4 linked regions of the Homo sapiens genome follow. The protein of the gene in region 2 purifies or fractionates together with the protein of the main gene of each other region. This does not show direct contact. Each region holds a gene or a part of one and is shown on either strand. Other genes may lie near its edges.

The links.
Region 1: the proteins of RNF26 (region 2) and CUEDC2 purify together in Homo sapiens (affinity purification with mass spectrometry; 3 studies listed by BioGRID and IntAct, with this or other methods). This does not show direct contact.
Region 3: the proteins of RNF26 (region 2) and ZMPSTE24 purify together in Homo sapiens (affinity purification with mass spectrometry; 3 studies listed by BioGRID and IntAct, with this or other methods). This does not show direct contact.
Region 4: the proteins of RNF26 (region 2) and ZNF143 purify together in Homo sapiens (affinity purification with mass spectrometry; 3 studies listed by BioGRID and IntAct, with this or other methods). This does not show direct contact.

Annotation. Positions count from the first base shown.
Region 1 is NC_000010.11:102,429,557-102,436,772, reverse strand, and holds the start of CUEDC2 (CUE domain-containing protein 2), read left to right. Parts: upstream 1-4,198; 5' UTR 4,199-4,247; intron 4,248-7,216.
Region 2 is NC_000011.10:119,329,519-119,337,533, reverse strand, and holds RNF26 (E3 ubiquitin-protein ligase RNF26), read right to left. Parts: upstream 3,008-8,015; 5' UTR 2,412-3,007; coding exon 1,110-2,411; 3' UTR 225-1,109; downstream 1-224. UniProt on the Homo sapiens protein: E3 ubiquitin-protein ligase that plays a key role in endosome organization by retaining vesicles in the perinuclear cloud.
Region 3 is NC_000001.11:40,289,221-40,294,690, reverse strand, and holds the end of ZMPSTE24 (CAAX prenyl protease 1 homolog), read right to left. Parts: intron 3,838-5,470; coding exon 3,694-3,837; intron 2,247-3,693; coding exon 2,022-2,246; 3' UTR 511-2,021; downstream 1-510. UniProt on the Homo sapiens protein: Transmembrane metalloprotease whose catalytic activity is critical for processing lamin A/LMNA on the inner nuclear membrane and clearing clogged translocons on the endoplasmic reticulum.
Region 4 is NC_000011.10:9,456,600-9,464,023, reverse strand, and holds the start of ZNF143 (zinc finger protein 143), read right to left. Parts: upstream 3,013-7,424; 5' UTR 2,990-3,012; coding exon of another isoform or gene 2,948-2,989; exon of another isoform or gene 1,984-2,947; intron 746-1,983; exon of another isoform or gene 154-745; intron 1-153. UniProt on the Homo sapiens protein: Transcriptional activator. Activates the gene for selenocysteine tRNA (tRNAsec). Binds to the SPH motif of small nuclear RNA (snRNA) gene promoters. Participates in efficient U6 RNA polymerase III transcription via its interaction with CHD8.

The sequences.
Region 1 (7,216 bases), on a different chromosome or scaffold from region 2:
ACTTTCTGGCAGGGTAAAGAGATTTGGGAGAGCCCCTGACGTCTTTGAGCATAAGAGTAGCCCGAGTCAAAGTTATTTAAAGGTTTGGCCAGTGGGCAAGATGTGGGCCTGCAGAAGCACCTGGCTGGGAAGTTGGGAGCCCAAACCATCAGCTGCCCCACGGCCTTGGCATTGATGTTGTAGCACTGCCGGGCACCAGAACTGAGTCCACAGGGCATTGCTAGAGCTCACAGCCTATGGAATTCAGTTCTCAGTGCCAGGTGGCCAAAGTTCTTTCAGCCTGGACGCTGCTCTTGCATGCTTTCTTCTGTGAATCGTCTCCCGTTCCCAGGATGAGTAAGTTGAGGCCCAGGATGGGTCACATAAGGAACTTGTGATACCAAGAGAACTCCTATTCCAGGGAGGGTCTGAGCTTGGAGCTGAAAATGGGGGCCCACAGCTAAGGAAATGGACAGGAGTTCCATAAATTCCAACAGGAATTGGAGTAGGTTAAGAGGGGAGGGGGCTCAGGGCCATGGCAGGGATCCATCTGTCGCTTCCTGCCCAGATGTGTTCCTGGTGGGGCCTGATGTGGGGCTGGAGGGGTGAGGGGCTGGGGAAAGAGCCAGAACACGCACACTGAGAAGGGCATCTCTATGCAAACCAAGGGGCTTTCTGAGCTAAAGGGAGTCCCCAAGATATGGATCCCCAAGATAGGAGCCCAGCCCAGGAGTCCTAGCTCCCCAGAAATCTCCCCAAAACCCTGAATAAAGATTTGAAGTACCTGGGATAGTGGAGTGGAGGAGAAAGAGTTCCCTGAAGCACACTTTCATTTTCTGGAGAGTTCAGCCGAGGGCTGGGTGCTCCCCTCACTCACATGGCAAAGCTGCAGCCTATCCCAGAGAGGGAAAGCCAAGCCTGCGCCTCAGGGGCACCCCATCCCGACCCCTGCTTGAATCCAGAGAGAGGGACAGCCACTTACCCACGAAACCTCCTCTCTATGGCTCCTGGGGCTGGATCTGCAACGATGTTCTCAGCCGGTGCTCCTTAAATAAGGCCCCCACCCCCGCCCCAGCCGCCTCCCGCCCCCGCCCCATGCTGGCTCTTCTGAGAAAGGAGGAAGGTGTGGGAGGGCCAGGAACCCTGCCCAGAGAGCCCTTTCTAACCTCAAGCCAGAGCGGGACCCCGCCCCCGCCATTCTTTGAAGCCTCCCCTTCCTCACCTTGGTCTCTAACTGAGTTCTTCCCACCCCTTGAGACCAGCCCGCTGGGCTCTCTCTCTACTCTGCCTGAAAAATCTGCCCTTTATGCCAAATTCAAGTCCAGTTTCTCATTTTGAAGCAGGATGATGGGGAATGGAGGTGCTAGGGGAAGCCTCAGCGTAGGTTTCTAGCTTTTCCCACCAGCTAAGGCGATCCAGGCACCCAAACACCAGCTGCAAAATTCACTGGAAGGAATGGCGGTGAAAAGGCATCCCTCTGCCTCCTTTAGCTCTGTGCCGCTTCAAGCAGTACCAAAGGGCAGTGGGGAGTCTGTTCCCATTTTGGGGAGAGAGAGACTGAGACCTGAGGGGAAAGAAAATCAGGGGCTGAAGTTCCAGCCAGCTTCAGAATCCCTCAGGGCAGGGATCCCGGGAGCCCCTACCTTACAGTATGTGTGTGTCCTTGTGTCTGTGGGGTTCCCTCTCCTCAGCCCACCTTCTGTCCTCGACCCCCCAGAACTTGACTCCTGCTGCACAGAGCTGGGACTCCCCAGAGTTTGAGTTGGGAAAGGAGGGACTCCCCCTAAGAAGTCTTTTCCATCCTCCTCCCTTGAAAGCTCAGGAAGTTCTTTCTGATACCAAGTCACATGCAGCTGCCATCCAGCAAACAGGGGATAGGGGAGAGGGGAAGGCACACAGTCAGAAATGGCTTGCAGGGGTCTTGGGCCAGAACTCAGGGCAGCTCTACTGAGGAAACTTGAAAGTTCCGGGAATGGAGGGTGGTAGGGAGAGAAGAGTCATCAGTATTGTGCAATGGACAGGGGGAAGCAGGAAAGGGGACGGGGGAGGAAAGGGATGGCTGGTCTCTGGAGGACAGGCAAAGGCCTGGGGCTGTGGGCTGCCCATCACCCCCTTCCTAGGGGCCTGCCCGGCCAGAGTTCAAAGTCGCTGTCACCCCACCCCTCATTAACCCTAGTATCACCAGGCTGGAGTGGCAGTGTTTTTATGGGCAAAGCGACGCGAATGTGCCCCTTCCTTCCCTGCTACCTCCCCCAAGCAGCCAACATCTTGCTGTCTCTGAGGCCAGAAGAGGAAGGAGGCTGTTGTGAGGACCAGAGGTGGAAGAGAAAGCAATAAGCAGTCATCCCGTTTTCTCCATAGTTTCTTCTTCTTCCTTCTCCTTCTTTTCTTCTTCTTTTTTTTTTTTTTTTTTTTTTTTGAGACAGGGTCTTGCTTTGTCACTCAGGCTGGAGTGCAGTAGCACAATCACGGCTTACTGCAGCCTTGACCTCTGGGGCTCAAATGATCCTCCCACCTCAGTCTCTGGAGTAGCTGGGACTACTGGCGTGTGTCACCATGCCCAGATAATTTTTTATTTTTTAAATTTTTTGTAGAGACGAGGTTTTGCCATGTTGCCCAGGCTGGTCTCAAATTCCTGGGCTCAAGCGATCCTCCCACCTCAGCCTTGCAAAGTGCTAGAATTACAGGTGTGAGCCACTGCAGCATAGTATCTTGGCACTGCCTTAGTCCCTAGGAGAGAGGAAAGATGGGACTTCTCTCTTGGACTGTGAGCTCCCTGAGGGCAGGGACAGCTTCCGGGTCCCCAGCACCCCACGAAGGAACTAGCACTAAAAAGGGCTCATCCCTGCTGATGGGGGATGGGAAATTTTATCCTTGAAGGGGACTCTTCCCCTTGTGACCCATTTCAGGGTTCCCAAGAGGGGAGGGCTGTGGGGCTTCCCCACAGGGCAGCACCGGGAATCTGTGGCAGCAGGAACAAAAAGAGGAAGTTGAAGTCTTGTTGGGCCCTGGAGTTCAGCTCTCCTGTCCTAGACAAGCAGCCCTGCCAACATGGGGGATGAAGGCCCCGGGGGGTAGGCATGGTCTACAGGCTGTCCATGACAGGGCTCAGGTGGATCCTCATCCTGGCACCTGCTACCACTCCACCTCTCCCAGACCACGTCCAAAATCCCAGGCTCCACCCTCCGGAGACACAGACCTGTAGCTCACCCCAATCTAGGGGAGACATTGCTGTTAAGGGAATGCAAAAGGTACAGACAGGGTGGGGAAGTCAGTACCTAAGAGACCAGCCTGGGCCACGTGGCAAAAACCCTGTCTCTACAAAAAAAAAAAAAAAAAAAAAAATTAGCTCGGCGTGGTGGCACGCGCCTGTGGTTCCAGCTACTCCAGAGGCTGAGATGGGAGGATCACTTGAACCCAGGAGGTCGGGGCTGCAGTGAGCCATGTTCGCACTCGTGAACCTGCACTCCAGCCTGGGGCTGTAACAGCAAGAAAAGAAGAAAAAGAAAGAGAAGGAAGGAAGGGAGGGAGGGAAAGAAAGGAAAATAAAGAAAGAAGAAAAGAAAAGAGGCCAGGCGCGGTGGCTCATGCCTGTAATCCCAGCACTTTGGGAGGCCGAGGCAGGCGAATCACGAGGTCAGGAGTTTGAGACCAGCCTGGCCAACATGGTGAAACCCCGTTTCTACTAAAAATACAATAAATTATCTGGGCGTGGTGGCGCGCGCCTGTAATCCCAGCTACTCGGGAGGCTGAGGCAGGAGAATCTCTTGAACCCGGGAGGCGGAGGTTGCAGTGAGCCGAGATCGCGCCACTGCACTCCAGCCCGGGAGACAGTGCGAGGCTCCCTCCCAAAAAAAAAAAAGAAGAAGAAAAGGAAAAAAAAGTGAGAGAGAGAGAGAGAGAGAGACGAGAAAAAGAGAGAGAGAAAGAAAGAGAAAGGTTTCGGGTCTCTGACGGATGAGAAGGAACAAGACGGGGATGCAGTCCTACCCACTTCGACTCCACCCCCTCTCAAGACCTTCACGCCTAACGCCTCCCTACGCGCAACAAAACTGGCCGCCAAGGGAGCCCGTCCATAGCCCTGGGACGTTAGAGAATTAGAGCAGGAGCTCCGCCCTGTTGTGGGCAACTTGCCCTTCTCAAACATGGCCGCCACGGCGCCTCTGGAAGGGAACCGCTCTGGGCCCCGCCTTTGATCTCGTTGGTGGGGCTGGGGGATGAGAGCTGCACCGCGCGGGACAAGTCGCCGGCGGCGCCCGACGGAGCAGGTGATTTCCCCTCCTGCCCCCGGCCCAGGGCTAGGAGAGTCGCGGAGAGCGCTGACCCAGGGTACCCGTCCGATGTGTTCCCCCACGGTACCCCCCCCGGGGCCCGTCGGACCCCCATCTCTGATTCTCGCCGTGGCCTGTATCAAGGCACATCCAGTTTGCTCAGGCCTGCCTCGTCATGTGTCCTCCAAGGCCACAGCCGCATCCCTGTGCCTTCGGGCCCACTATTCTGGACGCTTACGGGTGTCCCGCTAGCGGGTTTAGGGAGCTGCTGCTTCAGGGGTCGTCCATCATCGCGGTCCCACTTCCTGTGCTCGCCCTCCCTGTTTGTGCTCCCGCCTGACTTTGGATGCAGGGATCCCTTGTTCCCCTCAATGCCCTTGGTGCCTCTAAGGTCTGACTTGGGTATCAGAGGACAATGATATCCTCTGGGGCCTGCGTTATGGGTCCAGGGCCTCAGGAACCGGGCTTCACAGGGGCTGGGAGAAGCAGTGAAGACCTTCCATGCTAGACCCCTTGCTGCCTCCCTGAGAAGTTCGCTAGGACTCCTTTCACACTAGCTCCCAGGATTCCTCCTCCCACATGGCCTGCTCTCCCTCCACTTTAAGCACCTCCCCACCCCAAGGGAGCAGCATAGTACTTCTTACCCCACTCTCACTTAAATTTGTCCACAGTGTCTCTATCTAGCATCTGGAGGGTCCAGGCCTGTGCTGCCCTTGGGAAGCTCCCAGGCTAGCTGGGAGCAGTGAAGGTGGGGCAGTTAGGGTTGGCTGCAGAAAGGGAGTCCTGCAGAATGAGATTTGGAGAGGCAGAGGGACAGATGCTCTGGGCTGGGAGAGTGGTGTGAGCAAAGATTCTGAAATAGACAATATAGCCAGCCAGGCAGGAGAGGAGATTCAGAATATAGGATGGGGCCACACAATTTGCATCGTGAGAGGTGATGTAGTGTGGTGGTTAACAGTGAGGGTTCTGGATCCAGACAGCCTGGGTGTAAATCTGCCATTAACTTGCCTTGTGACCTTGGGCAAGTTACTTAACCTCATAGTGCCTTCATTTCCTTTCAGGTAAAATGTGGATAATACGGCCGGGCGCGGTGGTTCATGCCTGTAATCCCAGCACTTTGGGAGACCGAGGCGGGTGGATTGCCTGAGGTCAGGAGTTCGAGACCAGTCTGGCCAACATGGTGAAACCCCGTCTCTACTAAAAAATACAAAATAAATTTGCCAGGCATGGTGGCATGCGACTGTAATCCCAGCTACTCAGGAGGCTGAGGCAGGGGAATTGCTTGAACCAGGGAGGTGGAGGTTGCAGTGAGCTGAGATCGCACCACTGCACTCCAGCCTGGATGGCAGAGCGAGACTCCGTCTCAAAAATACATAAATAAATAAAATAAATAAAATAAAATGGGGAGAATAACAGTATCTACATTTTAGAGTTATTGTAAGGATTAGGTAAGTTAATACATGTAAAAGTGCTTAGGACAATGCCTCGTAAGCAGAGGCAATAAATGCTAATATTACCATCATCGGAGGCATTTAGGCAGGACTCATGACAGGATGACAGTCACATTTGGTAGACACCATCAACCAATGATCTCTAATTTGCGGCCCCCAAGAAGCAATGGGGTTCTGTGGGCTACATCTGGAATTTGAAATGTCTCATGGAAATCATGTTCTTACCCTGGAGAAGGGTGGCTGCTTAGGTGCTACTTAGGAAACCAGTCTGGCAGACCAGATCTTCCCCAACTCAGGGGCTATGCGGGGAGAAGTATTAGGAGCCCCTGAGCAGGAAGGATGTACTTAGGAAGGCTACCGGGGATGGGGAAGGGTAAAAGAGCTTAGAAGCCTGGGTGAAGTTTGGGTAGACCAAAAACAGGAGGAGGGAGGGAGGATGTTCCCTTGGAATACAAACTAGAGAAAAGCTTAGGGGAGCAAGTCTTTTTATTTGGGGACAGTGAAGAGTTTCCTAAAAATTCCCTGGCCCCCAGGCCTTGGCTAAAAACCCAGAAGCATGAGACACATCCCTGAGAAGCTTCTTCCCTAGAAACTGGGCTCTCAGGCCGGGCACGGTGGCTCACGCCTATAATCCCAGCACTTTGGGAGGCCTAGGCGGGCAGATCACCTGAGGTCGGGAGTTCGAGACCAGCCTGACCAACATGGAGAAACCCTGTCTCTACTAAAAATACAAAATTAGCCGAGCATGGTGGCACATGCTTGTAATCCCAGCTACTCAGGAGGGCTGAGGCAGGAGAATCGCTTGAACCCAGGAGGTGGAGGTTGCGGTGAGCCAAGATCGCGCCATTGCACTCTAGCCTGGGCAACAAGAGTGAAACTCTGTCTCAAAAGTAAAATAAATAAATAAATAAATAAATAAATAAAATTAAAAAAAAAAAAAGAAAACCTGGGCTTTCAGCCAAGTTTCAGTCACCACCACACAGGTGGCTCATGCCTGTAATCCCAGCACTTTGGGAGGCCAAGGTGGGCAGATCACCTGAGGTCAGGAGTTCGAGACCAGCCTGGCCAACATGGTGAAACCCCGTCTCTACCAAAAATACAAAAAATTAGCTGGGCGTTGTGGCAGGCGCCTGTAATCCCAGCTACTCAGGAGGCTGAGGCAGGAGAATTGCTTGACCCTGTCAGGTTCACACCATTGCACTCCAGCCTGGGCAACAAGAGCGAAACTCCGTCTCAAAAAAAAAAAAAAAGAAAGAAACTGGGCTTTCATGCAGCAGCCATGGGCCTTTGTCCCGGCAGAGGCTACCATGCAACTGACAGCCCAGGATTCGAGGGTGATGTAACCCAGGGTCGAGGTAGGTCCCTGGAGGCGGTTCTACCCTGAGGGAGCTGCATGATGGGATCTAGTATGCCTGGGCTGAGCCATTCTGCTCTTCCTCAGGGCCCATGAGGGCTCTGGCGCAGGTGGTATGAATTCCCCTGGTAGGCTGGGGCTTCTCAGTCCTGCTTTCCAAA
Region 2 (8,015 bases):
GGGACAAATCAGAAGGGATGAGAGCTCACAGAGCCATGCCTGGCATGCACTCTCCCCATGACATAGTCTTCCCAGCCTATCTTAGCTCCTTCCCTGTCCCCCCTCTAAAGCCCAGGTACCCCCACAGCCCACACTTCTGACTCTGGCGGGGCTGAAGGACCCTGATGCAAGGTCTGTTGCCTTGACCAACTGCTCCCTTGCAGGGATGCACACAGAGACTGTCAGAGCTGTCAAGAGAACTTTATTCATTGGAAACTGGGCCAGAGACCCCTCACGAAGCTGCAAGCCCCTGGGCCCTGGGCCCTTCTGTATTTGGACCCTAGTGAAATGTGCACAGTCTGCCCTCTCCATGCCAGGGAGAGACAGAGAGGAATGCCATTTTTCTGTGTGATGTGGGAGTGACAGGGGAAAGAGCAGAAATCCGGTTATCCCTCCTGAGACTCCCAGTGAGCTGGGGTGCCACAGGGCACGTGGCCCCAAAGTCAGGTGCAGATGCATCCCCCATCCCAGGGGTAAACTCCTGAGACTGGCTTTTGGATCAGGTTGGGAGGGAGCCTCATCAGACGATCACAGGCAGAGGTGGCTCTGAGGGCACCCGAGAGATACTAACCCCAACGCCTACCAGGGCACAGGGGCTCTGGCTGAACACAAAGGTTTAAGATCATCCGAAGGCCCCTGAGTTGCCAAAACACCCAAATGACACTGATGTGTTGTGGCCGCAAAAGCTGGGGAGGAAATGTGAAGGAGGCAGGAAAAGGACCTATAGATCTCCAACAGAAAAACCAGAAGCAGACAGGGGTAACCCCAGAGGCATCTGGGTGGGCCCTGGGCAGGCTGGAGGAGAGCCCACAGCAAATAGTCTCAGGGCCCTTGCATAGTGACATACTCACCACCCTCAGCATCGAAGGGACCCACTGGGTAAAGAGAAGCCATGTTATCCTGCCCCCACCCAGATCATAGTCTTCCAACTCAATGTCCTGGATGTATGGCAGGATGGCCACAGGGGTAGGAGGGGATTCAGACCAGGACCCGGAGATGAGGTGTTAATGCTGTCCTAGCGTGAGTGCCTGCGTGGAGCATGGAGGGGTGGGCAGGCAGGGAAGGAGGCTTCAGAGGTAGACATTGAGGGTCTGCAGGATGCCCCGGCGGCAGAGCGGGCAATTGCGGTGGTAGACGGGGTGGCGCATCAGGATTTCAGTGCAGGCCTGGCACAGGCACAGATGCCGGCAGGGCAGGAGCAACACTGTCTTGCTCTGGTCCTGGCAGATGACACACTTCTTCCGCTCCTCTTGCTCCTTCAGCAATTTCCAAGGGTCTTGCCCACCTGGAGGCTCCTCCTCATTGAGCCTCTCTCGGCCCCTGACAGGTGTCACTCTGATGGTCCTGGCCTCCTCCTCTTCTGCCTCTGATCTGCGCCCCGCTTCAGGAAGAGTGTCCTGTCTCCGGGTCCTAACTGAGAATACCCTCATAGGGTCACCCTGGGGAGCTCCAGGTGCCCCTCCCCGGTTTGGCCAACTCGCCAGCTGCAGACTGCGGCTCCAGACTCGGCGCCAGGCCTCTGAGCCCAGTGCTAGGCGAGAGAGCCGCATGACATCCTCTCGAAGACGGTGGTAGGATGGCCGGGCATGGAGCTGGCTGAGTGCCTGGGTAGCCAGCCTCAGGGTGAAGTCCGGATGCAACACAGTCACCGTCACTGCCAGCACACAAGCTAGCAACACCAAGCCAGTGAGATTGACAAGCACAAAGCTGGCCAGGAGGCGGGCAGCTGAGGCCAGCAGCTCCAGGGCTAGTTGGCAGGGTGTCCAAAGGAGGATGGCCATGGCCACAGCACTGCTGGAAATGTGGGCTAGGAAGGCAGCCACTACGTCCGTCATCCTCCACAGAGGCCCGGTCACTGCATCCCACAGGGCCAGCACCAGGGAAAAGAGGTTCTGAGTGCCGATGAGGCAGATGTTGACCAGGCTGTTGATCACATAAGCCACCAGGCTCATGGCAATGGCACAGATGTCACAGGCCTGGCGCAGCAAAGCATGGCCACTGGAGACCACATTGAGGACGCCCCGGTGCAGTATCTCCCTGCTCCGCAGTGCCCCATGAGAGGCCAGGTGCCCCAGGAGCTTTAGGCTCTCTAGGCCAGAGCAGCAGCTATACAGCAGAGTACACAAGGCCTGCAAGCCCCCACATGTGAACCGGACCACGGCTTCGATCAAGGCCAGCAATGAAAGCAAGACTCCGCGGCCCAAGTGCAGAAGACTAGTCAGTACCGTGTGCGGCAGGTTGTAGACGAAGGCCAGGAGCCAGGCCAGGGAAGCCAGGAGGGAGGACACCAGCAGGAAGTTGAGGTCCAACACCAAGGTCAGCACGTCCAGCACCAGGCCCAACCCATTCACTACCAGGTACACTGCCTCCATGATAGGGCTATGGAAGTTAGTCCAAAACAAAGTCTGGCTCCTCGGTTGGGGGGTTGTCAAGGTTGTCAATATTTTAGGGGGTCTGGGATTAATTTGGAAGGAAAATGAGCAGTCTCCAACCCAGGGGGTACCAAGAATCTGAGGAAGAAGTGGGTAAGACGGAAGTGGAGTCTTGGTAGAGGGAAAGGTGGCCAGGTGCCAGTCCAAGAGTCCAGGTTTTGAAGATGGGCTGTTTGGGAGGGAAGAGGCCAAACATCTCTAAAGCGAAGGCGAGCCCAGGCCGTAGGAGCGACCTCAGCTTTGGATGCCTGGTGTGGCGAACCACGGCCGGGCAACGGGTCAGACCGGGAGGAGACGAGGAACGGATGGAATGGGATCGGATCGGATCGGGTCGCGTCGGGTCGGGCCGGGGCCGGGTGGGGTCGATGTAAGCTGGGCGCAGGCTCTCAGTCCAGCTACGCAGGTGCCCCTGTCCCCGCCCGGCCCCCGTCTTCCCGCTAGCGGCGCTTTGCACCCAAAAGGGGAGTGGGAGAGGCAGCCAGCTTCAGCAAACCCCAAGCGCAGCCCCTACTCCGCTGGGCGCCGCCATCTTGTGTGCAAAGGGGTGGAGCCAGAGGCGTGACGAGGAGGGAGGGACGACAAACTCCAGCCAATCGGTGAAGGCCAACCACAAAAACGTCGATCACTCATTGGTCCGTTTGAATGGCGCCCGAACGTATTTACTTTCCAAAGGGAAGGAGAGGCGACAGATTAAATCCCCTCCCCCTTTAGGCGGGGATTGGTTCGTTGGCGGGCAGCGTCGAAATACGCTCTCCTAGCCCCACCCTCTAAAAGAGCAGGGTCTTGGACTCCCCTCAATTTGGGAGCTGTTCTTTCTCCCGGCCTCTGAACGCGAGGTTTTTTTTTTGGCTTGGGTCGGAGGTCACTGCCTCTGGGCTGGGCTTTGGAATAGCACCGCCTTCGCAGCCTGCCCAGATCCGTCTCCTCATTCTCTTCTATTTATTCATCTATTCTATCATTTATTGAACTCCTACAGTGCATTGAGGATACAAAAAAATTTTAAGACAGTGCCTGCTGTTCACAAGGGAAAGCAGATTATTACAGGGGATTCCCAAACTGCTATTCCAAACTTTCCTCACCAGGTTTTTCAACATCTCGGAAGATTACTTCATTGTCATTGAGAAAAAGGGGCTACAGATTTAGAAACCGCTCAGCTTCCTACCCTGGGCCTTCCTACCCTAGAGTGCAGTGGCGCGATCTCGGCTCACTGCAACCTCTGCCTCCCGGGTTCAAGCGATTCTCCTGCCTCAGCCTCCCGGGTAGTACAGGTGCCCACCACCTCACCCGGCTAATTTTTGTATTTTTAGTAGAGACGAGGTTTCACCATGTTGGCCAGGCTGGCCTCGAACTCCTGAACCTCGTGATCCACCCGCCTCGGCCTCCCAAAGTGCTGAGATTACAGGCGTGAGCCACCAAGCCCGGCCCTGCCCTTTTCTTTAATACTCAAACAATAGTCAAAATATATTTGAAACCCCATCCCAAATATATTGGGAATCCTGGCGTTTTCTACTAACTCCAAGGATGCTTAGCAGACTCCTAGTGGACTTATCTTTCCCCTGGTCACCTTTGCTGAATTTCCTACTTGAGTTGAATTCTCCATCTCCACTCCTGGGCTCCTGAAAGTGTCCGTCCTCCTTCAGTCTGCCCTGAACACTGCCTCAGAGTCCTTCATTCTCCAAAGCATCACTGATAAGAAGCTGAGGTGTGCAGCAAACCTTTACTGAGGCCTTGGGATCGTGGTAGGGGTACGCTATAGTGCAGAGGAAGGACTGCAGTCGCTGAAACTCCTCTGGCTTCTTCCTACCCTTTCTCTCTCCCTGCTCTCAGGCCCTGGCCAGGTTATGGTTTGTTGTGTTGTGATGTGTTGCTGATGTTTTTATTTTCCTACTCGCATCCTCCCGCCAGTGTCAAATCTTGGAGAATGTGCCCACCTCCCTTTCAAGACAGTTGATCCCATCGCCCGTACCATCTCCTCTTAAGGGATCTTATTTGTCCAGTGAACACTATGTTGTTATTAATCAATCTTCCTCCAGCACTTGACACCACTTCCTCCACCCTTGGCCTCAGAATCATTACCCTTTCCTATATTCTTTCTGTTTCCATCATAGCCTCCTCTCCTGTATACACGATGATTTCTGAATTTGTGTCTTCAGCCTGAACCTGTCCTGCAAACTTCAGGCTCCAGCTGCTTCCTGGACATGAACGGTTCATGGGTATCCCACTGGTGCTTCCTACACAATATGTCCAAAGTCAAACTTGGCAAACGTGCTGTGCCTGCACTGCGTGCAATTAACTGGCCAGTTTTCCACACCAAGAAGCATGTAAAGTCCTTCTCAGAGTTGGCAGGATCCTCTAAGAGAGAATTTCCATTCGTTTAGGACCAAGACCTCCCCTTTGAGTGATTTGAGACTCACTAATCCAAAGCCCTCTTTAATGAGCCACAACCCTTGACTCCCAGGAAACCTAGCAGGTAATCCTGCTTTGGGCAGGGACAAAGACTCCAACTGGCTTTGGGGAGGCAGTTCAAATTGTTTGACAATGTTAGTCCCAGGGATTGAGAAGAAAATAAGCCAGATATTGAGAAAGCTGAACACCTAGAAGCCCTATCCTTGCAGTATTTTCTAATGGAAGATGTAGTGTAAAGCCCTCTGGAGGCCTGCTCTGGTGGCAGCTGGTTTCTGCTGTTGTGCTAACTTCAGGGGTTTTTTTGTTTAGTTTTGTTTTGCTCAGCGTAAGATTCTAGCTGGGACAATAGAAGGGATTTTTAGAGACTATGAAGGACTGAGGATTAAGAGATTGGAAAAACCAGAAAAGAATGTCTAATTCAGGGGTTTTGTTTTGTGCTATTGTGTATATTACGGCCCTCCCCATCGTCTCCTCATCAAGCATTCAGTAAAATCTATATTATTGCCATGTTTTAGGTTGGTTTTTTTTATTTTGTTTTTTAATTATGCAAATCATTTACAGGGTCCCAAAGTCAAAACTTTATAAAAAGATACAGTCACAGAAGGTTTGCTTTCATCCTTGTACCCTCCACCCTGTTCCCTCCCAGTGCCACCCAAGCTTGAGAGGACCCCAAGTATTACAAACATAGACAACAAATGTCTCCATAAAGGAGCACCTGGGTCCTCTATCAGTCAGGATCCAGTGCTCGTTACTGGTACGGAAAAGCCTATAGCCCCAAACGTCAGCTCTGCAAACAACACGGTTCAGGCCCGAAGAAGCTCTTCAGCTCTTCTGCACTTGTTTGAGACAGTCTCGCTCTGTCACCCAGGCGGGAGTGCAGTGGCACGAGCTCAGCTTACTGCAACCTCCACCTCCCAGGCTCAAGTGCTTCTTGTGCCTCAGTCTCCCCCAGTAGCTGGGACTACAGGCGTGCACCACCACACCCAGCTAACTTTTGTATTTTTAGTAGAGACGGGGTTTCACCATGTTGGCCAGGCTGGTCTTGAACTCCTGGCCTCAAGTGATCTGCCTGCCTCGGCCTCCCAAAGTGTTGGGATTACAGGCGTGAGCCACCGTGCTGACTCTGTCCTACACATCTTACAAAAAAAAAAGAAAGAAAGAAAAAGAAGAAAAGAAAAGGAAAGAAAGAAGAAAAGAAATTAACGTGGTTTGTGCAATGTGGCTGAGGAACATTTTTCAATATTAATTCCTATTTATCTTTAAATTTGCATATATGTAAATATAGAGAAAACACGCATGTGTATTTAACTAGCTATATTCTAGTTTTGACTTAAGGAAAAACTAGTTTTCCCTAGTTTTGCACTAAGGAAAAAACCTACTTGCAATTTTAGTCTTTGATTTAAAAGACTGTCAAGGGCAAGTCGATGATAACAGTAATGACATGGTTAGTAAAGATAATAAAGATGAACAAGCCAGGATTTTGGCCAAAAATCTAGAAGCATTTTTTTGGTGACATGTCCCCTGTATGGCACATAGTTGAACTTGTTATTAGAAGACACAGCCTAATTGTGCTGATAATAATGGCATTTTTGGAAAAATAAAAAGATTATATGCAATATTCTGGATGTGCCCAAAGATGAAATATCTTGGAAAAAACTGTATCACAACTGACCTTACAACTGCTCTTGGATACATGATGGGAATGCTGGCTAAATGCTGTTAAAACAAGTCGGTTTAATTTAGACAAGAAACTAGAAGGGCTGGGCACCATGGCTCACACCTGAAATTCCAGCACTTGGGGAGGCCAAGGTGGGCGGATCGCTTGAGCCCAGGAGTGCAATACCAACCTAGGCAACATGGCGAAACCCTGTCTCTACTAAAAATACAAAATATTAGCTGGGCATGGTGGCATGTGCCTATAGTCTCAGCTACTCGAGAAGCTGAGGTGGGAGAATCACCTGAATTTGGGAAGTCGAGGCTGCAGTGAGCTGTGATTGCACCACTTTACTCCAGCCTGGGCAACAGGGTTGAGATTCTGGAAAGAAAGAGAGAAAAAGAGAAAGAGAGAGAGAGAGAGGAAGGAAGGAGAGAAAGAAAAGGGAGAGAGAGAGAAAAAAAAAGAAAGAAGGAAGGAAGGAGAGAAAGAAAGAAAGGCAAAGAAAGAAAGAAGAAAGAAGGAAGGAAGAGACAAAGAAAGAGAGAGAGGAGGGGGAAGAAGGGAAAGAAGGAAGAAAGGAAGGAAAGGGAGGGAAGGAAGGAAGGAAGGGGAAACTAGAAGACTGAGCAGCGTTAAGAAGATTCACAAAGAGCAAATTATGGTCTCAAATGGAAAATCAAATTACCCTTGCATGTGCACTACCCACAGATATTTGAGATGGTTGTTTAATATGAATAATATTGATAAAAGTGTAACCAAAATACTGCTCATTTGGATATTTTTTTAAACAAGTGATGAGCCACTATTGATACTTTATTATGAACTGAAGTCCACAGTTTACATTAGGGTTCACTCTTGGTGTTGTACATTCTATGGGTTTTGACAAATGTTTAATGACATTTATCCATCATACAGTGTTATAGAGAATAGTTTCATTGCCCTAAAAATTCTCCGTGCTGTGCCTATTCATCCCTCCTTCCCCCCAGACTCCTGGCAACCACTGATCTTTTTACTGTTTCCATAGTTTTACCTGTTGTAGAACGTCATATAGTTGAAATCGTACAGTATGTAGCCTTTTCAGATTGGCTTCTTTCTCTTAGCAATATGGATTTAAGTTTCCTCCATATCTTTTCATAGCCCATTTCTTTTTAGCACTAAACAATATTCCATTGTTTGGATGTACTAGCTAATTTATCCATTCATCAATTGAATGACATCTTGGTTGCTTCCAGGTTTGGGAATGATGAATAAGGTCTGCTATAAACATTCATGTGCATTCAGGTGGACATAAGTCTTCAACTCATTTGGGTAAATACCAAGGAACACAATTGCTGGATCATAAATATAGCATGAGTATTTTTAGTTTTGCAAGAAATCACCAAACTGTCTTCTAAAGTGGCTGTACCGTCTTGCATTCCCACCAGCAATGAGTGATAATTCCTGCTGCTGCACATCTTCCTCAGCATTTTGCAGTGTCAGTT
Region 3 (5,470 bases), on a different chromosome or scaffold from region 2:
TAGGGTGCAGAGTGCCATCTATTCCTTCGTTGGTGGGCCTATCTACTCTTCCCTTGATTGGTCAATTTCTTAGGAACCTACCAGTATCCTTTTGGCCATCCCTATGCCTCTGCCATCCATAAAGTGTGGGTGACTAAGTCAGTCACATATTTAAAAGCTAATTACTGCCACCATATGTAAGGAAAACCAAAGAGGCAGCTGGAGCAGACCAGGCAGGCCCAACAATTTGAGGTTATAAAAATAGAGAAGGAATGATTCCAAATGAAGCTTCCAAGGAAATATCTGCAAGAACTGGTGATACTCTGGAGCAAAGCAGGAGCAAGACACTGAAGAGACTCTGTGTAAAGCACAGTGGTGGCACTGACACCACTCATCATTAGGGCTATTTCTTCATTCCACTCTTCATTGCTAGCACCCAGTTCCTCTCAGGTAATAAACATATGTTCAGGTAACAAATGATACACAAATTAAAAAAATGATACACAAATATCAAACTAAAGACAAAGTACATACATTTGCGTTGGCAATGTTTAATGTTTCACTTTTGCAGAACTGAAATTTGTATTCAAAGGCACAGAAGGAAGGAAAGGCAGTTATCAGAGCATGAAGTCACAGATAAAGGATGCTGAATAAAAGCATAGGACTGCTCCTCTTTAGCCTTAGGAAAATAAATAATGCAGTATTAAACTAGATTTTTATTTTTATTATATTTCCATGTGAAGACATCACCCAAATGTCAGCGGAGCAAAAGACTTTATGGTCAGATACCAAAGGCGTACAGTTGATCCCACTTTGGAATAAATGCCCAGAAGGTAATAAGCATTATCAGTGAGTGAGAGCTCTAGGCACAAAATAAGTTCTCATTCAGAAAGTGGACAGAGATATGAAGCAGTGAAACATATAGCTTTAAAAACTGGAAATCATTCATGACATTTGTTTTCAAAGTAAACATTATCTGCATTTCAAGAACTGTAATTTTCAAAAGTAGAATCAGGCCTGATTAAGTAATATTTATGACTTACAGATAAAATTACAAAAATAAAAATGAAAACTCTTCTGCCCTTGAAAGAGATAGAAAACTATATTTTTTTCCCTGTAATGTCACAGAGATTCATCAGTATTTCATCCTTATGTCGCTTAAAAAATGTTATTTTTAATTCGTCTTTCCTGTTCTGCCACTTTTAACATAGCAAAACGTGTTTAATATGGCCATCTCTGCTGAGTGAAAGGATGTATTATTTACTGCATGAATGAGAAGAAGCTACAATTTACCTCCAATGGGATCATATCTACCACGTGGGAAAAAAAGATAAAGACACGGATTTTCCAAAAAACAAAAGAAACAAACAAACAAAAAAACCCCACAAAACTCAATGATTTAAAATATCCTATACATAATTTCTAACTTCAAAGCACTATGAGAAACTCTTGATCACTGTGTAGCAAGAAAGGGAAGAAAGAAATTAAAAATTTGGTAGAATAGGAGAGCATTTTTCTAACTACTTTCATTTAAATAACATTGGCCTTACCAACTATTACCTTTCTTATTTAAAACACTGATTCACCAGGTGAAATCATAACAGCATGAAAGTAAGACCAGATTTCAAGTTAGGTGTGAGCACAATGATTCAGGACCACTGTTTCCACCTCACAGAAAGGATTCCTGTGGTGATGCTCCCTCTTTCAAACATATGCCCTCAAACACCTCACATGCAGATTCCATATAAGTATACAAATAAAACGAGTTCTGTATTTTTCCAAATAATTTTACAACTTGATGGTAAATTAGATGTCAAAGATAAAACTATGCCTTTAAAAACATTAAGCTTCAAAATTCATTCAGTGTTTTAAGAAATGAATTATTAAAATCATTTTTAAAATGACATATTAAATGTATTTAAATCTGGGCTTTTCTGTACTTAATTTTTCTTCTAAAAAAAAGTTTAAAAACATCAAGAGCTGGAACATGCTGCCAGGACAGAAATAATCAGAAATGTCTTCAGTCACAGATCCTGGACATCTCAGTGTTGCTTCATAGTTTTCAAAGCTTGAAGTCTCTCTAGCAGTGGAGGATGAGAATAATGCCACATTGAGAACAACCAGTCAGAAACAGGGAATCCCAAGTTATCTTTGTTAAGTTTGATTAAAGCAGAATATAAGTCTTTAGCCTTCCCAAGTTTCTTGGCAAATGCATCAGCTTGAAACTCAAATCTGCGGCTTAGGACTGTTAGGCAAAAAGAAAGAACCTGAAAAAGAAAATGAAAGGGTTTTAGCCACTGCCCACCTCTTTGTTGTTACTAAAGGTTCCATGAGCTGAGACTGTAGAGAAGTTTGGCTTGGGATAAGAGGAATGGCAGGACAAAAGAAAGATCACTAATATTTAGGGGACCTAGGGTGAGGAAATTATAAATTGAGCCTTATTCTCCCCCAAGCAAACAGGCCAGAAACACATATAAAAGTTAAACATCCCTAACCAAAAACTTGAAATCTGAAATGTTCCAAAATCTGAAACTTTTGAGTGCTGACATGAGACTCAAAAGTCATGCTCAGGCCGGGTGTGGTGCCTCACACCTGTAATCCCAGCACTTTTGGGAAGCTGAGGCAGGTGGATCACCTGAGGTCAGGAGTTCGAGACCAACCTGGCCAACATGGTGAAACCCTGTCTCTAGTAAAAATACAAAAATTAGCTGGGCGTGGTGATGGGTGCCTGTAGTCCCAGCTATTCAGGAGGCTGAGGCAGGAGAATTGCTTGAACCCGGGAGGCGGAGGTTGCAGTGAGCCAAGATGACACCCCTGCACTCCAGCCTGGGAGACAGAGCGAGACTCCATCTTAAAAAAAAAAAAAAAAAAAGAGTTTTAAGATAATACATCTCAGTTCTCTGCCAAATTTATTTTTGTTTATGTGGACAATGCTATATGAATATGATCTATGCCCCTCCATTTTTCTTTCCTGGTGTCCCCACCATACATAATAGAAAAATATAATTCATTTAGCTCATCTTAACTCTACAATCTATCCCAAGAAAGAATTCTTCTGAATGGAGATACCTCAAGATCTTCAATATTATTTCTTAGCTTAATTTGGAAGCCTTACCAAACATCATGAAATGATGCCATTGTCAGGTTTGTTATATAGTCTCACATTAACCTATGTATTATCACTCACACGGAATACCCCTAATGAGCTAACACAGAGCAATGTTCTTAAGTTTCATTTACCACAAAATACCCGATTTTGATTTTGTGGGTTTGGGTGGATCCCTCAGGCTATATGGAGGCAGGTGGTCATGGAGCAGAGGAACAGTCACTAAGCCTCCCTTACTGAGCTGTACCAATTAGTGTTTGCTTTGTCCCCTCATACACATAAGATTTTTACCCAAGCACTGGTGAATATGTGGCCTAGGACACAACATTCCAATAGTTAATCTCCATCTACCGAGTCCTTTTAGGTGTTCACCACTGAAGTCTAGTTTTCTACTTATACTTTCCTAAGAGTATGCAAACGTTTATTTATTTGGGCTTGAATTTTTCTGCTACTTTGTCATACTGACCAGTGAATCAGGGGACTAAAAGACTTTGTTTCATCTATTTGTTAAAACTGTACTGTTCTATTTCCTTTTTCACTATCCTGAAAGCTCTAGATTTGAAGCAGGCAAGAGCATATGTGTGATAATTTTAAAGATCATACATTACCTCATTGTAAGGTGAAAAAATAAACTGGAAGATGATCAATAGTCCAATAAGAGTGGGTTGGCTATCATAAAAACCAAATGCAGCAAAAAGCTCCTTTCGACCAATTAATACAGCAAATAAAAAAAAACACAGGAAAGAATTCATCTAGAAAGAAGGACATGAAATTTCTAAGTTATTACCAAGCTGATTTCACTATGGGATCAGTAGCATCCATAAAGTATAAGAAATCACAGTGTGGCCGGGCGCGGTGGCTCACGCCTGTAATCCCAGCACTTTGGGAGGCCAAGGCGGGTGGATCACGAGGTCAGGAGATTGAGACCATCCTGGCTAACATGGTGAAACCCCGTCTCTACTAAAAATGCAGAAAAAATTAGCCGGACGTGGTGGCGGATGCCTGTAGTCCCAGCTACTCGGGAGGCTGAGGCAGGAGAATGGCGTGAACCCGGGAGGCGGAGCTTGCAGTGAGCTGAAATGGCGCCACTGCACTCCAGCCTGGGCAACAGAGTGAGACTCCATCTCAAAAAAAAAAAAAAAAAAAAAAAAAAAATTCATAGTGTGATTTTAAGAAAGGTATTAGTGTGATCACAGAACAAATTATTTAAGTAGCTTTTTTTGAGACAGATCTCACTCTGTCGCCCAGGGTGGAGCTCAGTGGCACGATCTCGGCTCACTGCAAGCTCCGCCTCCCATGTTCACGCCATTCCCCTGCCTCAGCCTCCCGAGTAGCTGGGACTACAGGCGCCCCCCACCATGCCCGGCTAATTTTTTGTATTTTTAGAAGAGACGGGGTTTCACTGTGTTAGCCAGGATGGTCTCAATCTCCTGACCTCAGATGATCCACCCACCTGGGCCTCCCAAAGTGCTGGGATTACAGGCATGAACCATACTGCCCCGCCAGTAGTTTTTAGTTTCACTTTTATTTCAAAAGTAAAATAAAATGTTCCCAAATGTATAAACTGTATCATTTTCTATAAGGGCAAGCTTAAGTTGAGGCTCCTATCATTGAGGGTTTGAAGTGGTCAATAGCAATGGGATATTTTCTCTCTGTAAAAGGGTGAAGGGCTAGAATGGATTCTGGCCTTGTTTTATAACACTGTAATCAGATACAACGCCTCCCACCTGACTTTGAAGCGGAGGCTCCAAAGAAACAGGCTTCCCTTGAATCCTCTCTAGGCCCACTGGAGCTGTACCAGATAGTTAGAAAGGTCAGGGGGAAAAGTAGATCCATCTTGATCAATAAATGAGAGGAGAAAAAAATAAAAAATCTATACCAAAATACAACCTCTTGGAGTAAGGTTGGAGAACACACAACATTCTTTTTCTGTGCAAATTAGGATCTTGGAGGCCACATGTACCTTATTTAAGTGTGTTGCTTCAAACCATTTGACCCAAACGAGATGACCCAAGAAGCTGTCAGCTTAGAATGGGGCTTAGAGCATAAGAAGGCTCACCAGCTGCCCCAGGACAAGCAGCTTCGACACTCATCCTTATAACTCAGTGGATCCAATATGACAAGCTCCAACAGAAAACTCAGTGAAGTCTCCTACACTTATAATCTATGCATCCACTTTTGTCAAGTAACCATTGTCCTTTTGAAAAATAACTTTTGGTTTGCTACTGGGCCCTACTACAGACTGAATTCCTGGCCATGGGATACTGTGATCCTGCAAACTGAACTATCCCTTCTGAACTGGGTGCTATGTTAATCTGTTAATCTGCCTAGCCAGGAAACTGCTATGCGCAGAAGCACTTCATCATCAAGGACAAGTGGTAGATA
Region 4 (7,424 bases), about 110 Mb from region 2:
TCTGAAACAGTGAGAAACATGTCCAAGATATATGGTAAGTGGGAAAAAGCAAGTTGCAGAAAAGTAGATACCATATGATTGCATTCATTTATTTAAAAATGTATATAGTTATCTGTATATGCTTGTATGAACATTTAAAAATTCAGTGCTTACCTTCCAGAAATGGAACTATGCTATGAGGGTGGAGTGGTTTTTTATTTTAAAAATAAAACCATGTAGTAGAGGCACAGTTCAATGCAGCCATGCCACGTTTCTGTGAAGAACACAACCAGTCCTTACTTCACAGCAACATTCCAACACACAGCAAAGGACTATGGACATTTTGCAAACCATGTATCTGATAAGGGACTTCTATCTAGAACATATAAAGTACTCTCACAACCAAATCATAATAAGACGAATAATCCAACTTTAAAATGGGTAAAGAATTCAAACAGACATTTCTCCAATGATTATAAATGATCGTTAGGCACAGAAAAAATGCTCAACATTATTAACCATCAGAGACAGGCAAACCAAACCTACAAGAGACACCATTTCATCCACACTAGAAAAACTATAATCAAAAAGACTGATGATAACAAGTGTTGGTAAGGATATGGAGAAACTGGAACCTTTACACATTGCTGGTAGGAATGTAAACGTGGTGCAGCCACACTGAAAAAGTTTTAGAGTACCTCAAAAGGTTGAACATAGTTACTATATGACTCAGCAATTCTATTCCTAGGTATTCTACTCCCAAGAGAAATGAAAACCTATGTCCACACAAAAACTTTCGTACAAATGTTCATAGCATTATGTGTAATAGCCAAAGGGTGGAAACAACCCAAATGTCCATCAACAGATGAATGGATAAGTAAAATGTACTATGTTCATACAATGAAATATCATTTGGCAATAAAAATAAAGTATTGACACATGTTATAACATAAATGACCCTGGACAAGGCTACATACTTTGTGATTCCATTTATGTGAAATATCTAGAATAGCAAACATGCAAACTAGTAGTGGGGTGGAGGGGACAACTGAGAGGAAATGGGGAGTAATTGCTAACGGGTATAGTTTCTTTTGGGGGTGATATGTTGCTAAATTGATTGTAGTGATGGCTGCGCAACTCTGAATATATTAAAATTCAACTTTTTTTTTGAGACGGAGTTTCGCTCTTGTTGCCCAGACTGGAGTGCAATGGTGCAATCTCGGCTCACTGCAACCTCCGCCTCCTGGGTTCAAGCGATTCTCCTGCCTCAGCTTCCAGAGTAACTGGGATTACAGGCGCCTGCCACCACACCCGGCTAATTTTTGTATTTTTCGCAGAGACGGGGGTTTCACCACGTTGACCAGACTGGTCTCGAACTCCTGACCTCAGGTGATCCGCTGGCCTCGGCCTCCCAAAGTGCTGAGATTACAGGTGTGAGCCACCACACCCAGGCTAAAATTCAACTAATTATCACTTTTTTTTTTTTCGAGACCGGTCTCTGTCACCCAGACGGGAGTACAGTGGCACAATCACGGCTCACTGCAGCCTGGAACTCCTGGGCTCAAGTGATCCTCTCACCTCTGCCTCCAAGTACCTGGGACTACAGGCACACGCTGATTTCACTTAAAAAAAATTTTTTTTGTAGAAACATGGGAGGGCCGTCTCCCTATGCTGCCCAGGCCTAATTACACATTTTAAATGGGTGAACTGTAAGGTATGTGAATTACATCACTAAAGCTATTTTAAAAAATAAAGGCGGGCATCTGTAAAGCAAAAAAAAAAAAGGCACTCAAGTATCTGTAGACAGCTGACTGCTCATAGAATTTCCAAATAGTGGACACTGACAATTAAAAAAAAAAAATTTCCAAACAGTCAAAATACGCCAGGACAAAATTAGCTATGCATCTTATGGGTGTTTTTGAGTGATCTCCTTATCACGTTATTTTCTTACTAAACGTAAACTTGATCTACATACTCAGCAAGAAAAAACATTAAATACTGCACCGTTTTTTGTCAACTACAGGAAAACACAAGTATCTTCTGGTAAGATTCAGGACAAAGCCGACCACAATCTCGAACCTACAATTTCTCCCCACATTCTCACTTGATTATATCAGCTGATTTAGACACTTCCAAAGCAAAGGCTGACGCTGATTTTAAACAAATAATGGGCTGGCAATGGTATTCTTCTTTCCTCTTTTTAACTTCGTTATTATGTGGAAAAAACAAATGTCCAAAGCAAAAGGGGAAGGAATAAAAACTAGTTCGCGTTCCACAATAATACGTTTCAAAGAGACTTATAAGAATTTGTTCACTCTTTTGGCCAAAACTGGAGAAAAGGGAGGATAAAATTGTAAATTTCTAATATCCGATGTTAGACCTCAGTAACCTTTTTTTTTTTTTAATAGAAGAAAGGGTGAGGGGGAAACAATCTGCCCACGATACGCATGGGAAGCAAGCGCTAGGTGAGACCGGCAGGTCCTGGGAGGGCCTGGGCCAGCCCTGTCCCCGGCGCCCCCGCTGCGGCCTGGTGTGGCCCGTGGGCCCGGCGTCCCAGGCGGCGGAACTCTGCCTCGGCGGCGCCTGGGGACTCGCTCTGCGCGGAGGTCAGGCCGAGAAACGCGGCCAAGGCTCCCGAGGGCTCCACCCTCCCCTCTTTCACTCCCTCCCCTTGGCGGTCCCCTGAGGGAAACAGGCGGGGCGCATCGCTCAGAGACAAGCTGGGGGGAGTTGAGTCCTCAACGAAAAAAGCTCCGCCGCCTAGAGTGGCGGCCGCGGGTTATTAATAAACTCCGCTTCTGCCCAGACGCCGCTACCGCGGCCGGCCCATAAAATCGGCAAGGCCTGCGGCGGAGGCTGAGCAGCGGGAGCCGGAGCCCGGGCCCAAGCGGGCCCGCGCCGCCGCGCTGAGGGCGGCGGCCAGGCGGAGAATAATGCACACTGGGTAAAAACACATTTATATACGAACCTCCGAGAAAATTTTCCAACAATTCCTTCGTCCGACCACCATGCACCAGGACAGGAAACAGCCGTCCGGCCCCCAGGCCCCGCAACCCGCATAGTGTGTCTGAGGCCCGCCCCCAGCTTCCATTGGGCTGTCATTACATCACTCACAGGACGCTTCCGGTTTTCCATTGGCCCACGTTTGGTCGACGCGAAAGAAAACCGCCCTAGCCGCGCCCACTCAACTGACGTCAGCCAAGCCTGACTTTACAGCCCGCCCCTGAGTGGCTCGCGCAAAGTGCAGAATCAAAGCTCCTGTGTCTGACTGGTTGACATAACCGCTTATCCCAGACGGACCCCGCCTCACTGACTAGCGAGTCATACCGATTCTGGGGCCCCAGCGGGAGGCGCCATTTTGTAGCGAGGGAGGGAGGCTGGTCCTTGTGATTACCCGGGAGGGAGCCGGGGTGACGAGCGCCATTTTCCCCACAGGGGCGAGGAGGCGGCTTTGGTTCTCCCGGTGGGCTTGCCGGAGTGCGTTCTGCAGACCAGAAGGGCTTTGTCTGGCGATTGCTGAATGCTCAATAGCAGCCTGCTGGGAGGGAAGTCGAAGGGAGAAATAGGACAGAAAGAGAGACCTGACCTCTCCCTGGAGGCTCTCAGTGTCGGCCGAGGCCCTTGGTCTTGCTCTAGGGCTCTGCATTCCCGAGAGCTGCTGTATGCCGGGGATTGGCTTCCAAGCCTGCCTGAGCTTCTCCAGTCTCCCGGGCATCGCCATGCGGTGGGAGGGTGAGCCTTCCTCTCCTGCTGAAATTCCGGCGGCTTGGCAACCGGCCGGGGGGTCTTGGATTCCTCGGGGAGACACCACTGATGCTTTGTGGTTTCACGTAATTTGGATTTAAAAGTTGAAGGCGTCAGAAATGGTTGTCGCTACGGTCTTTTGTATGTTCTTGTGTTGCGAACTAATAAAGGAAAGTCAAAAGGGTGGGAGAAGCATTCAGTCTGGTTCCCTAAAGTTACTAAGAATGGATACAAATTAGTTGTGGCCGTTGCGGTTAATGCTTCTTGTAGCTCTTAACCCAGCCCTTTCTAAACCTTTGGATATACTTACTAGTCAGTTCCGAAGGTACTCAGTACAAATTTGCGTTGGCGCACCAGGCCGACTAAAGATGAGGTGGGTGTATTAGACTCAAAATTTCTTAAGTCGGCCAGGGGGTAGAATTGAGCTACCAAGAGAATGAGAGACTACCCTGTTGTAACAGATTTGGATCGCGCTTAGAAAAACAGGGAGAAAGCTGGATGATGTTCAACTTAATGTCTTGCATTTCAGACGATTATCGAATGGACGGGGATAAATAAAAACGATGTTACAGATAGCCCTCTAAGTGTGGATAGTAAATATTTTGATTTACAATTAAGCCTACCTTGAGGTGCAGGCCCTAACCAACGGATAGTTGAGTAATAGGGGCCTAGACGCCAATGGAAAGAAAATGGGACTTTAAGCTTTGTTTGAACATATATTCTGTTAATAAAGAAGTTTAAATCAGTTCGGATTACTGTTTTTTGTTTGTTTGTTTGTTTTTTGAGACGGAGTCTCGCCCTGTAGCCCAGACTGCAATGCAGTGGCACGATCTCAGCTCACTGCAACCTCCGCCTCCCAGGTTCAAGCGATTTCTCCTGCCTCAACCTCCTGAGTAGCTGGGACTACAGGCGCCCACCATCACGCCCGGCTAATTTTTCTGTTTTTAGTAGAGACGGGGTTTCACCATGTTGGCCAGGCTGGTCTGAAACTCCTGACCGCGTAATCCGCCCACCTCAGCCTACCAAAGTACTGGGATTACAGGCGTGAGCCACCGCGCCCGGCCCGGATTACTTTTTAAGCCCTTAAAATAAAAGTGTCACATATAAAAAATGGATTAGGTGGCCGGGCGCGGAGGCTCACGCCTGTAATCCCAGCACTTTGGGAGGCCAAGGCGGGCAGATCATGAGGTCAGGAGATCGAGACCATCCTGGCTAACGCGGTGAAACCCCGTCTCTACTAAAAATACAAAAAATTTAGCAGGCGTGGTGGCGGGCGCCTGTAGTCCCAGCTACTCGGGAGAATGAGGCAGGAAAATGGCGTGAACCCGGGAGGCGGAGCTTGCAGTGAGCTGAGATTGCGCCACTGCACTCCAGGCTGGGCAACAGAGCAAGATTCCGTCTCAAAAAAAAAAAAAAAAAAAAAAAAAAAAGGATTAGGTTACTTTTAACTGGAGGATTTTGCTCAGTTAAAATCAGTCTCCTACCCAATGGATACATTCTCTGTTACAAAGAAGTAGCCCAGCTGAAAAACAAATGGTTTTAATTTATAATTTCTGTTCCCTCCACATGTATCTGTGTTTTGTAATTGGAGGTGTTTTTTAACCCATCAGAATATTTTTATGCAGTTCCACTAAGTCCCATGCCTGTAGGCTACTCATTAAAACACTATAATACAGAATCTCAAGAATTTTTAAATCGCCCTCTTATTGTAGATAACAATTACAGGACATCTTTGTATCCCCAGAAGCTACTGAGTTGTTCTAAAAATTGAATGGCGATGATGGTGGCGGTGGATAGGATGCTATAATTGTAACTGGATTCAGAGAGAAACCTAATTCTGATTTGTCACAGGTAATGGAACGTTGTGTTAACAGTATTTACCAGTGACTATAGAACAGAGTTCAAATGTACATATATTCAGAGCCATTCATAAGCTTAAAATGTTATCCCATTCATCTCCCTTCCCTTATATCGTGTTATATCCGGTCAAATTAATGGCTTGAAAATGTTTCCCTGTCAATCAGTACTAGTCCAGGCTCTTAAATGCAGAAATTAAATAATTTCCCCAACTTCCTAAACAAGAGGTAACTTATTTGTAGCCCCCTTCAAAAACTGTTAAGATAATATTTTCTAAAACACTTCTTTCAGTAACTTAAAACTTACTGGAGAATTGGTTGGTTTTGGCATATTTATACCATGCTATAAGCATTAAAGTAGTATATATGTATACTATATATATATAGAAATTATATATGATATATATGTATACTATATATATAGAAATTATATATGATATATATAGAAAAAAGATAAACGATGAGTTAAGCTTAAAAGCAATTATTTCAGGCCGGGCGCGGTGGCTCACACCTGCAATCCTAGCACTTTGGGAAGCCGAGGCAGGCGGATCACGAGGTCAGGAGTTCGAGCCATGGTGAAACCCCGTCTCTACTAAAAATACAAAAATTAGCCCGGCGTGGTGGTGGGCGCCTGTAATCCCAGCTACTCAGCAGGCTGAGGCAGGAGAATGGCTTGAACCCCGGAGGCGGAGGTTGCAGTGAGCCAGGGTCACACCACTCCACTCCAGCCTGGGTGACAGAGTGAGAATCCATCTAAAAAAAAAAAAAGGCCGGGTGCGGTGGTTCACACCTGTAATCCCAGCACTTTGGGAGGCCGAGGAGGGTGGACCACCTGAAGTCAGGAGTTCGAGACCAACCAGGCCAACATGGCGAAATCGCATCTCTACTAAAAGTACAAAAATTAGGCTGGGCACGGTGGCTCACACTTGTAATCCCACCACTTTGGGAGGACGAGGCGGGCGGATCACAAGGTCAGGAGATCAAGACTATCCTGGCTAACACGGTGAAAACCCGTCTCTACTAAAAATACAAAAAATTGGCCGGGCACAGTGGCTCACGCCTGTAATCCCAGCACTTTGGGAGGCGGAAGTGGGCAGATCGCCTGAGGTCGGGAGTTTGAGACCAGCCTAGCCAGCATGGTGAAACGCCGTCTCTACTAAAAATGCAAAAATTAGCCGGGCATGGTGGCAGGTGCCTGTAATCCCAGCTACTTGGGAAGCTGAGGCAGGAGAATCGCTTGAACCCGGGAGGCGGAGGTTGCAGTGAGCCGAGATCGTGCCGTTGCACTCCAGCCTGGGCAACAGAGCAAGACTTTGTCCCAAAAAAGCAAACAAAAAGATAAATAAATAATAAAAATACAAAAAATTATCTGGGCGTGGTGGCATGCGCCTACAGTCCCAGCTACTCAGGAGGCTGAGGCAGGAGAATCCCTTGAACCTGGAAGGCAGAGGTTGCAGTGAGCCGAGATCGCACCACTGCACTCCCGCCTGGGTGACAGAGCGAGCCTCCATCTCAAAAAAGCAAAAAACAAAAATTAGCCGGCCATAGTGGTGGGTGCCTGTAATCCCAACTGCTCGGGAGGCTGAGTCAGGATAATAGCTTGATCCTGCGGGGCGGAGGTTGCCATGAGCCAAAATCGTGCCACTTCACTCCAGGTTGGGCGCAAGAGCGAGACTCTGTCTCAAAAAAAAAAAAAAAGTTTCATGCCGGGCGCCGTGGCCCACGCCTGTAATCCCAGCACTTTGGGAGGCAGAGGCGGGCGGATCACGAGGTCAAGAGATCCAGACCATCCTGGCTAACGCGGTGAAACCCCGTCTTTACTAAAAATTAAAAAAAAAAGTTAGC